2 separate regions of the Homo sapiens genome follow, and region 1 is linked to region 2. Evidence: fine-mapped expression QTL. Tissue or cell type: whole blood. Region 2 holds a variant in brackets; the other region holds the start of a gene. Each region is shown on its reference strand, or each on the opposite one. Region 1 holds the start of CHRNA2 (cholinergic receptor nicotinic alpha 2 subunit). Region 2 has its middle 48 kb from the start of LINC02577.

What was found. PIP is the estimated chance that this variant, and not a neighbour inherited with it, causes the effect. A credible set is the group of variants that fine-mapping cannot tell apart.
Region 1: CHRNA2 starts here. The variant in region 2 is the best candidate, but not a certain one, in a credible set for the expression of CHRNA2 in whole blood (TOPMed, PIP 0.51).

Annotation. Positions count from the first base shown.
Region 1 is chr8:27,477,126-27,482,493 of GRCh38, reverse strand. It overlaps CHRNA2 (cholinergic receptor nicotinic alpha 2 subunit), which reads left to right and starts at 3,233. Exons shown (of 7, transcript NM_000742.4): 1 at 3,233-3,670.
Region 2 is chr7:106,724,721-106,730,100 of GRCh38, reverse strand. No RefSeq gene overlaps it. Among named protein-coding and RNA genes, the nearest start is that of LINC02577, 48 kb to the left of the region's middle. The variant C/T (reference allele first, on the strand shown) is at 2,911.

The DNA of each region.
Region 1 (5,368 bases), not on the chromosome of region 2:
ACACCCCACCTCCAACATTGGGGATTACAATTTAACACGCGATTTAGGTGGCAACACAAATCCAAACCTATCAATGGCACATGTCCATCATCTGTCTGCTGAAGGAGGAAGCAAGAGGAAGCTGTGTAGTGCCCCCTACCTAACAAAACCATAAATGCAATTAATACAATGTCTCCAGAGGAATCCCAAGGATTAGGGCCACCAGCAAAGGCTGTAAGGATGCAGAAGTGGTAATTTTGATGATCTCCAAATGCTACCTAAGGTAGATGGGTCTCATAGAATGTCAGTGGTTCATTGTAAACTTAAGTGATTCCGATTACAGAAGCTGTTCCCAATGTGGCCCGAATGCTCATCTTCCCAGCAGTAGTGGCAAACCCTGGTCTCTGGATGTGCTGGCAGAGCCCAGAGGTTCAAATTATTCACTTGGTGGCAAGTTGATTGTAGTGAATGCCTTATATGCTTGAGAAGGCAGCAATCTGGCTTTTGTGGAATACAGTAGATGCTTATTCTGGAGAATGGCTGGAGAGGAAACCAATACATACCCACTCTAACCTCATGATCTATTACTACAATGAGCACTGTACCTGTCTGTATTTTCTTACTGGCTTTGCTAATTTATTTCATATTCTGCCCACCCCATTACTTTCTATGTGTGTATTTTGAGTGAACGTTATGATTTATTCCATAGAAAACAGAATTTCAAGGTGGCACATGTGTCAGGAATTAGAGCAGGAGGCTGGACTTGGAGCTGGATGGTCACTGGTGAGACTTGGGGTTCTATCCCTGTGGAGTTAGGGTGGGGTTAGGGGGAGGCTTTTTGCTTGTGTGAGGAATGGTTGCATTCTGCTAGATTCTACATTTGTATGTTTGGCATCCACTATATGCACGGCCAAACTAACAGCCAACTTTGTTACATCTCCCCTGCAATCAGCTTTTGCAGGTGCACTACAGTTATAGTACAAGCCCTCTGCCTAATCTTGACTCAGTATCCCCAACAGCACCATTTGTCTAACTCTCACACACCGAGCCAGTATTCCTCCTGCCACAAATCACCTCAGAGCTAGGTACTGGGCAATTAGAGACCATCCCTATAGCTCAGAGCCCACCAAGATTATTCCAACTATCTCATCGCAAGCTGCTTCCTTGCACTGCCCTGGTTTTCCCGGGGAAACCTCATAAAGGCTCGGGGCCAGGCTTCCCACATTGTGCCCTCCACCTCCTGACACTCCCTGGTGCTGCTCTGTGTGGCCCTGCGGGAATGTGCCACCCCTCCTGTTTCTAGGGATCTGTGAGTATAAACTCCTTCCTTTATGACAGTCACTTCTGTGTCTGCATGTCTTACCAAACCTGATTAAAACAAATTCTGGGTGAAAATTTTAGGACAATTAGATGTAAACATTTTTTTTCAAAGTGTGATGATGGAAAGTCGAGTGTGCACTGATGTTAGGAGCCAAAGAGCTAGATTTCGTGTGGCGGGGAGGGGGGTGCTTTCCAGCATTGAAACAACTTTCAAATATTTCAGGAATGTCCCCCCTCTTGAAGTGGGCAGAGCCCACCTTCCACATAGAAGCTCAAAACCCCAGATTCCTGCTTCCTTGGCCTTCCTGGCATCTGGTTTGGGAGCACATGCTTTAATCAGATGCATCTGTTTCGACCTTTGTATGCAGAGCTAGTGACACAAAGGAGCAGGGCTGGAGGAGAATTAACTGTGGCAGCGGTGGCAGCAGCAGGGATGGCTGCTTCCAGGGACAGCGGTGACAGCGGCACCCATGACGGTGCCAGGTTCACATGCAGCTCTGTAGCAGCAGGACCCACCATGCTGGCCGCGGGGCAGAGGCTTCCCTCTTCTCCCTGCTCTCCAAGCAGCCCCTCCAGATTTCTAGGTGCTTCTGTGAACCACCCGTTGTTCCTCAATAAAACCATTCTCCACTTAAAGTAATTGGTAGGTTTTTATTGCTTGCAACCAAGAATCCTGATGGATACAAGCTGTGATTTTCTTTTCTTTTCTTTCCTTTCCTTTCCTTTCTTTTCTTTTTTCTTATTTCTTCCCTCCTTCCCTTCCTTCCTTCCTTCAGTCTCCAAATGAAAAATGTATACATCTAACTTTATATATATGTAAATATGGTAAAATATTAACATTTATTAATTATGAATAGTGGAAATATGAGTGTTTATGGTTTTTTGGTATTTTATGTCTTTTAATTCTCTCAAAAGATGATTCTAGCAATCGCATGCACATGTGTACACACAATGCACGTGTGTGTTTGTGTTTATTTGTGCTAATTGACTCCTCATAGTAAACCTATGAGGCAGGAGCCATTGTTCACATCCTCTTTTTACATCTGAGGAAACTGAGGCATAGGAAGCTGAAGAGGCCTGTCCAGGATTATGCAGCTGTTCAAGAGCAGAGCTAGAAATTCAGCCTCAGCAGTCTGTGGCCGGGTCATGTCCAGGGCCTTTGCTTTTAACAAAATAAGGGAGATGAGCTAGCAAGTAGCTTGAGGGAAAGGCCGAAAGCAGAGTGTTTTTAGGGTGGAGGATGAGCTTCTTTAGGGGCTGAAGGGAAGGAACGAGTGGGGCAGAGAGGGAGGATCTGAGAAAGCCCAGGCTGTTAATAGATGGGGTGATGTCAAGATCACAGTGGGCCAGGATTCGCCATGCACAGGAGGAGACAGGAGTACTCATCTGATACTAGAGAAAAGGAGGCTTCACCGGAAAATCAAAGGCAAGGTCACCTGCAAGGAGGCTGACGGGGTGACAGAGAAGCAGCCACACCGGGTGGCCGCGCAAGTGACCGGTGGTCCTCTAGGGTGGTGGGGGGAGGGGTCTCACAGGGGAGGAGGGCAAGGAGAGAACCGTGGGCTGGCTGGCAGCTCTGTCCTTACTCCAATTTTTCCGATGCTATTTACTGACTTAGAAGGTAAATACATTCCAAGGTTCTTCAAGTTCTTTACAGCTGGGCTTGTTCCAAGGCTGGAATTTGTGAAGTGGATTCACATACAGTGAAGCTGTATTGACAGACAGACCCAGGACCCAGGACCCAGAACCTGTGGGTGCACTCAGGGGCCCCAGGCAGTGATCCTGGAGCCCAGGGGTCCAGAGAGCAGGGAAGGGAGCATCGTGGTGACTGGACAGAGCTGCATCTGTCCCCACCGGACATAGGCTGGAGAGTCACAGGCTCCTCCTCCTTCCCCTCCAGAGAGGCTGTGTGTGTGTGTGTGTGTGTGTATGTGTGTGTGTGTGTGAGAGAGAGAGAGAACAGCGTGAGCCTGTGTGCTTGTGTGCTGAGCCCTCATCCCCTCCTGGGGCCAGGCTTGGGTTTCACCTGCAGAATCGCTTGTGCTGGGCTGCCTGGGCTGTCCTCAGTGGCACCTGCATGAAGCCGTTCTGGCTGCCAGAGCTGGACAGCCCCAGGAAAACCCACCTCTCTGCAGAGCTTGCCCAGCTGTCCCCGGGAAGCCAAATGCCTCTCATGTAAGTCTTCTGCTCGACGGGGTGTCTCCTAAACCCTCACTCTTCAGCCTCTGTTTGACCATGAAATGAAGTGACTGAGCTCTATTCTGTACCTGCCACTCTATTTCTGGGGTGACTTTTGTCAGCTGCCCAGAATCTCCAAGCCAGGCTGGTTCTCTGCATCCTTTCAATGACCTGTTTTCTTCTGTAACCACAGGTAAGAAAGGTACCCAAGGCTTATGTTGAGGGCGGCATGCATGTGGAGAGCTTGTGGATATGGGGTCAAAGAAATACTAGCAGTTTCTGGGTACTCAGGAGGGGGTTATGTCTGAATGCTGGATGTCACCTGCTCCTAGAAATATTTTAGTCTCCTGGTTGTCCCTGCTGGAGCTGTCCACAGCCAGGTGACGATGAACACCTCCTGGCTAGGATGGCTAGCCCAGTCTCAGGAATAGTGGCTTTGTTACACTGTATCTGCTCCTATGTCTTTACTACTGCTGTCCATTCTTTTGTTCATTTATTTACTCATTCTGTAAATTGTCTATGTCCTTTAAAAGGGCTAAAAGACAGCAATGCTATTTACTGACTTAGAAGGTAAATACCTTCCAAGGTTCTTCAAGTTCTTTACAGCTGGGCTTGTTCCAAGGCTGGCATTTGTGAAGTGGATTCCTCCATCAGCTGGTGTGGTTGTTCAGATGACCTTCAAGATCCCACCCAACCTTGAGTGTTAAACTTCTGTGATTGAGCAAAACAGATATAAAAGCTAGAATTACACTCTCTAGCCCCTAAGCACCTTGAGTGCATTTATTTGGAAGAAGAAATCATACTGGTTTCTCTAATGGAGGGGCTTCTTTGGGAGTGTAATGTTGCCAGTTGTGAAAAAGCTGAGACCTGTATGCTTGGGGAGGTTCTGGACAGCAGAAAGGAACCAGGTGGGATGGAAGCAGCCTTTTGGGAGAAGGAAATGTTAGTAAAAAGAGGAGAATGTGGACTGGTGGGTGAGAAGTTGAAAACAGAATTAGTAGAACCATGGACAGGGAAGTGAGCTCAAATCACCTTGACCTCCACGGAACCAGGATTCAGGCAGGCTAGAGATGCTGCAGTGAGTGTGGGGGTGGGGTGGGGGTGGCCTGGAACTGGTGTACGTGAGCAGCGACACAAGCCCAGTGGGGACACTGATGTCCGAGCACTTTACGTATGCAATCTCTTTTACATAGGCTTCTCTGTGTACCCCATTCACCCAGACCCACTTTACAATTAGGGACCTCATCCCACTCTCTCCCCTTCCCCAAATCTGCCAATCCAGCCACTTAGAGGGTCAAAGTGTGCAGCTCTTTTTTTTTTGACATCTTCCTAACCAGAGGTGGAAGTTCCCTCTAATTACTGTCAATCACCTGGAACAATTCCTCCTTTGGTTTCCAGTGACAAATTAAATGAAATGATATAGTGGGCTTATCACAGGGGATGCAGGTTTGAGGCATCTTGCTGGGAATACATCCTCTAGAGTCACTGCATCTTATTTGCACATTCTTCTGGGGGTTCCCGGGTGGCTCTCCTTGGATCTCTAAATGATGCAATGTTAGCATGCTTGGATTCCTATTCTCACTAATGGAGAAAAAAAAATCTCCTTTTTAAAAAATGCACTTGGTTAAAAGGTGAAACAGATGATAGCTTTGGAATTTGCAACTATGATATTGGTTGGCTGGATGAGAAAGTGAATCTGCACTAGAGGAACCTGCTAGAATCTGGGATCCAGGTGGGCCTAGCTTTGGGGTGAGGTGCCTGTCCCCTCTCCTCACTTGTCCTCAACAGACCTCAGTCCTGATGGTGGCTTAGCAATGACAGACACAGTGCTAGGGTCTACGGAACACAGGTGAGTACTGGCTGAATTGCTAATACGAAATCGCCCCCCTAG
Region 2 (5,380 bases):
TCAGTGAGGAAGTTGAGGTTTCTAGTTGGGAATTTCCTCAACTTTTTGACTTCAGCCAATGACCTTATTTAAACCCATAACCTGATATCCATAACCACTTCTTTTACTCAGTCTTAAATCAATAATTTAAAAAAGTTTTTATTAACACATAATTCAGATAACATACAATTTCCCCATTTAATGCGTACAATTCACTGGTTTTTAGTATTTTCACAGAGTTGTGCAACCATCACCACAATAAATTTTAAATCATTTTCATCACCACAAAGAGAAATCCCTTGGCCATCCGTCCTCATTCCCCCATTGCTCCTAGCTCTAGGAAACCACAAACCTACTTTCTTTCTCTGTGAATTTCCATATTCTGGACATTAAATATAATGGAATAATACAATATATAATCCTTTGTGACTGTCTTTTTTCACTTAACATAACGTTTTCAAGGTTCATCCACACTGTGTCATGTATCAGTTCTTCATTCCTTTTTGTGGTTGAATAATATTCAAGTGTATGCTTATGCCACATTTTATTTATACATTCATTAGTTGATGGACATTTGGGTTATATCTAACTTTTGCCTATTATTAAGAATGCTACTATGAATATTCACACACAAGGTTTTATGTGGACATATGTTTTTATTTCTCTTGGGTATATACCTAGGAGGGGAATTGCTGAGCTGTATGGTAGCACTATATTTAATTATTTGAAAAATTGCCAGACTGTTTTCCAAAAGATGTACTATGTTACATTTCCATTAGGAGTGCATGAGAGTTCCAATTTCTTTGCATTTTTGCTAACTTGTTATTATCTAACTTTTTGATTAGAACCATCATAATCTGCATGAAATAGCAGCCCATTGTAGGTTTGATTTGCATTTCCCTGAGGCTAATGAAGTTGATCATTTTTTTCATGTGCATATTGGCCATTTATATATCTTTTTTGGAAAAATGTCTATTCAGGTTCTTTGCTTTTTTGAAAATTATTTGTCTTTTTATTGTTAAGTTGTAAGGGTTCTTTATATATTCCACACACAAGTCCTTCATCAGATATATGATTTGCAGAAATTTTCTCCCATCCTATGGGTTGCCTTTTTAATTTCTTAATTGTGTGTTTTGAAGCAGGAAAGTTTTTTTTTTAAATGCTATGATATCCAATTTACCTATTCTTTTTTGTTGTTGTTGCTTATATGTTGGGTGTCGTAGCTAAGAAATCATTGCCTACTACAAGGTCATGAAGATTTACCTCTGTTTTTCTAAGAAGTTTATAGTTTTAGCTTTTACACTTAGTTATTGGATCCTATTTGAGTTGATTTTTATACAGATGTGAGGTAGGATCTAACTTCTTTTTTTTCAGATTGTGTCAGCACCATTTATGGAAAGACTTTTATTTTCCCATTGAATTGATTTCCCTTGTTGGAAATCAATTCAATGGGAAAAAATTTCCCTTGTTGGAAATCAATTGACAGTAAGTGTGAGTTTACTTATAGATTTTTAATTTCATTCTATTAATCTGTATGTCTTATCTTATGCCAATACCACACTGTCTTGATTACTGTAGATTTTGTAGTAAGTTTTGAAATGGGGAAGCGTGAATCCTCCAACTTTGTTGTTTGTTTTCAAGGTTGTTTTAGCTCTTCTGTTTCTTGCGCTCTCATATAAATTTTAGGATCAGATTATTGGTCCAGAATTTTGATGGGAATTGTGTTGAATTTGTAGATCAGTTTGGGGAGTATTGCCATCTTAACAATATTAAATTTTCCAATCCATGAACATGAGGTGACTTTCCATTTATTTAGGTGTTCTTTAATTTCTTTCAGCAATGTTTTGTATTTTTCAGAGTATAAGTTTAGTACTTCTTTTGTTAAATTCATTCCTAAGTATTTTATTCTTTTTCATGCTATTGTAAACAGATTTTGTTTTCTTAATTTCATTTTTAGTGTATTCATTGCAAATGTATAGAAACACAATTGATTTTTTAAATATATTTTTATTATACTTTAAGTTCTAGGGTACACATGCACAATGTGCAGGTTTGTTACATATGTATACATGTGCCATGTTGGTGTGCTGCACCCATTAACTCATCATTTACATTAGGTATATCTCCTAATGCTATCCCTCCCCCCTCCCCCCACCCAACAACAGGCCTGGTGTGTGGTGTTCCCCTTGCTGTGTCCAGGTGTTCTCATTGTTCAATTCCCACCTGTGAGTGAGAACATGCGGTGTTTGGTTTTCTGTCTTTGCAATAGTTTGCTGAGAATGATGGTTTCCAGCTTCATCCATGTCCCTATAAAGGACATGAACTCATCATGTTTTATGGCTGCATAGTATTCCATGGTATATACATGCCACATTTTCTTAATCCAGTCTATCATGGATGGACATTTGGGTTGGTTCCAAGTCTTTGCCATTGTGAATACTGCTGCAATAAACATACGTGTGCATGTGCCTTTATAGCAGCATGATTTATAATCGTTTGGGTATCTACCCAGTAATGGGATGGCTGAGTCAAACAGTATTTCTAGTTCTAGATCCTTGAGGAATTCCCACAGTGTCTTCCACAATGGTTGAACTAGTTTACAGTCCCACCAACAGTGTAAAAGTGTTCCTATTTCTCCACATCCTCTCCAGCACCTGTTGTTTCCTGACTTTTTAAAGATCACCATTCTAACTGGTGTGAGATGGTATCTCATTGTGGTTTTGATTTGCATTTCTCTGACGGCCAGTGATGATGAGCATTTTTTTTTATTATACTCTAAGTTTTAGGGTACATGTGCACAACATGCAGGTTTGTTCATATGTCTGTTGGCTGCATCAGTGTCTTTCTTTTTTTTTTTTTTTTTTTTGTGGCGGATTCTCGCTGTCTCCCAGGCTAGAGTGCAGTGGCGCAATCTTGGCTCACTGCAGGCTC[C/T]GCCCCTCCGGGGTTCACGCCATTCTCCCACCTCAGCCTTCCGAATAGCTGGGACTACAGGCGCCTGCCACCTTGCCTGGCTAATTTTTTGTATTTTTAGTAGAGACGGCGTTTCACTGTATTAGCCAGGATGGTCTCAATCTCCTGACCTTGTGATCTGCCCGCCTCGGCCTCCCAAAGTGCTGGGATTACAGGCGTGTTCAATGTCTTCTTTTGATAAGTGTCTGTTCATATCCTTTGCCCACTTTTTGATGGGGTTGTTTGTTTTTTTCTTGTAAATTTGTTTGAGTTCTTTGTAGATTCTGGATATTAGCCCTTTGTCAGATGGAAAGATTGCAAAAATTTTCTCCCATTCTGTAGGTTGCTTGTTCACGCTGATGGTATTTTCTTTTGCTGTGCAGAAGCTCTTTAGTTTAATTAGATCCCATTTGTCAATTTTGGCTTTTGTTGCCATTGCTTTTGGTGTTTTAGACATGAAGTCCTTGCCCATGCCTATGTCCTGAATGGTATTGCCTAGGTTTTCTTCTAGGGTTTTTATGGTTTTAGGTCTAACATTTAAGCCTTTAATCCATCTTGAATTACTTTTTGTATAAGGTGTCAGGAATGGATCCAGTATCAGCCTTCTACGTATGGCTAGCCAGTTTTCCCAGCACCATTTATTAAATAGGGAATCGTTTCCCCATTTCTTGTTTTTCTCAGGTTTGTCAAAGATCAGATGGTTGTAGATGTGTGGTATTATTTCTGAGGGCTCTGTTCTGTTCCATTGGTCTATATCTCTGTTTTGGTACCAGTACCATGCTGTTTTGATTACTGTAGCCTTGTAGTATAGTTTGAAGTCAGGTAGCGTGATGCCTCCAGCTTTGTTCTTTTGGTTTAGGATTGACTTGGCAATGCGGGCTCTTTTTTGGTTCCATATGAACTTTAAAGTAGTTTTTTCCAATTCTGTGAAGAAAGTCATTGGTAGCTTGATGGGGATGGCATTGAATCTGTAAATTACCTTGGGCAGTATGGCCATTTTCATGATATTGATTCTTCCTGTCCATGAGTGTGGAATGTTCTTCCATTTGTTTCTATCCTCTTTTATTTTGTTGAGTAGTGGTTTGTAGTTCTCCTTGAAGAGGTCCTTCACATCCCTTATAAATTGGATTCCTAGGTATTTTATTCTCTTTGAAGCAATTGTGAATGGGAGTTCACTCATGATTTGGCTCTCTGTTTGTCTGTTATTGGTGTATAGGAATGCTTGTGACTTTTGCACATTGATTTTGTATCCTGAGACTTTGCTGAAGTTGCTTATCAGCCTAAGGAGATTTTGGGCTGAGATGATGGAGTTTTCTAGATATACAATCATGTCATCTGCAAACAGGGACAATTTGACTTCCTATTTTCCTAATTGAATACCCTTTATTTCTTTCTCCTGCCTGATTGCCCTGGCCAGAACTTCTAACACTATGTTGAATAGGAGTGGTGAGAGAAGGCATCCCTGTCTTGTGCCAGTTTTCAAAGGGAATGCTTCTAGTTTTTGCCCATTCAGTATGATATTGGCTGTGGGTTTGTCATAAATAGCTCTTATTATTTTGAGATACGTCTCACCAATACCTAATTTATTGAGAGTTTTTAGCATGAAGGGCTGTTGAATTTTGTCAAAGGCCTTTTCTGCATCTATTGAGATAATCATGTGGTTTTTGTCTTTGGTTCTGTTTATATGCTGGATTATGTTTATTGATTTGCGTATGTTGAACTAGCCTTGCATCCCAGGGATGAAGCCCACTTGATCATGGTGGATAAGCTTTTTGATGTGCTGCTGGATTCGGTTTGCCAGTATTTTATTGAGGATTTTTGCATCGATGTTCATCAGGGATATTGTTCTAAAATTCTTTTTTTTTGTTGTGTCTCTGCCAGGCTTTGGTACCAGGATGATGCTGGCCTCATAAAATGAGTTAGGGAGGATTCCCTCTTTTTCTATTGATTGGAATAGTTTCAAAAGGAATGGTACCAGCTCCTCCTCTTACCTCTGGTAGAATTTGGCCATGAATCCGTCTGGTCCTGGACTTTTTTTCGATGGTAGGCTATTAATTATTGCCTCAATTTCAGAGCCTGTTATTGGTCTATTCAGAGATTCAACTTCTTCCTGGTTTAGTCTTGGGAGGGTGTATGTTTGGAGGAATATATCCATTTCTTCTAGATTTTCTAGTTTATTTGTGTAGAGGTGTTTATAGTATTCTCTGATGGTAGTTTGTCTTTCTGTGGGATCGGTTATGATATCCCCTTTATCATTTTTTTATTGTGTCTATTGAATTCTTCTCTCTTTTCTTCTGTGTTAGTCTTGCTAGCAGTCTATCAATTTTGTTGATCTTTTCAAAAAACCAGCTCCTGGATTCATTGATTTTTTGAAGGGTTTTTTGTGTCTCTATCTCCTTCAGTTCTGCTCTGATCTTAGTTATTTCTTGCCTTCTGCTAGCTCTTGAATGTG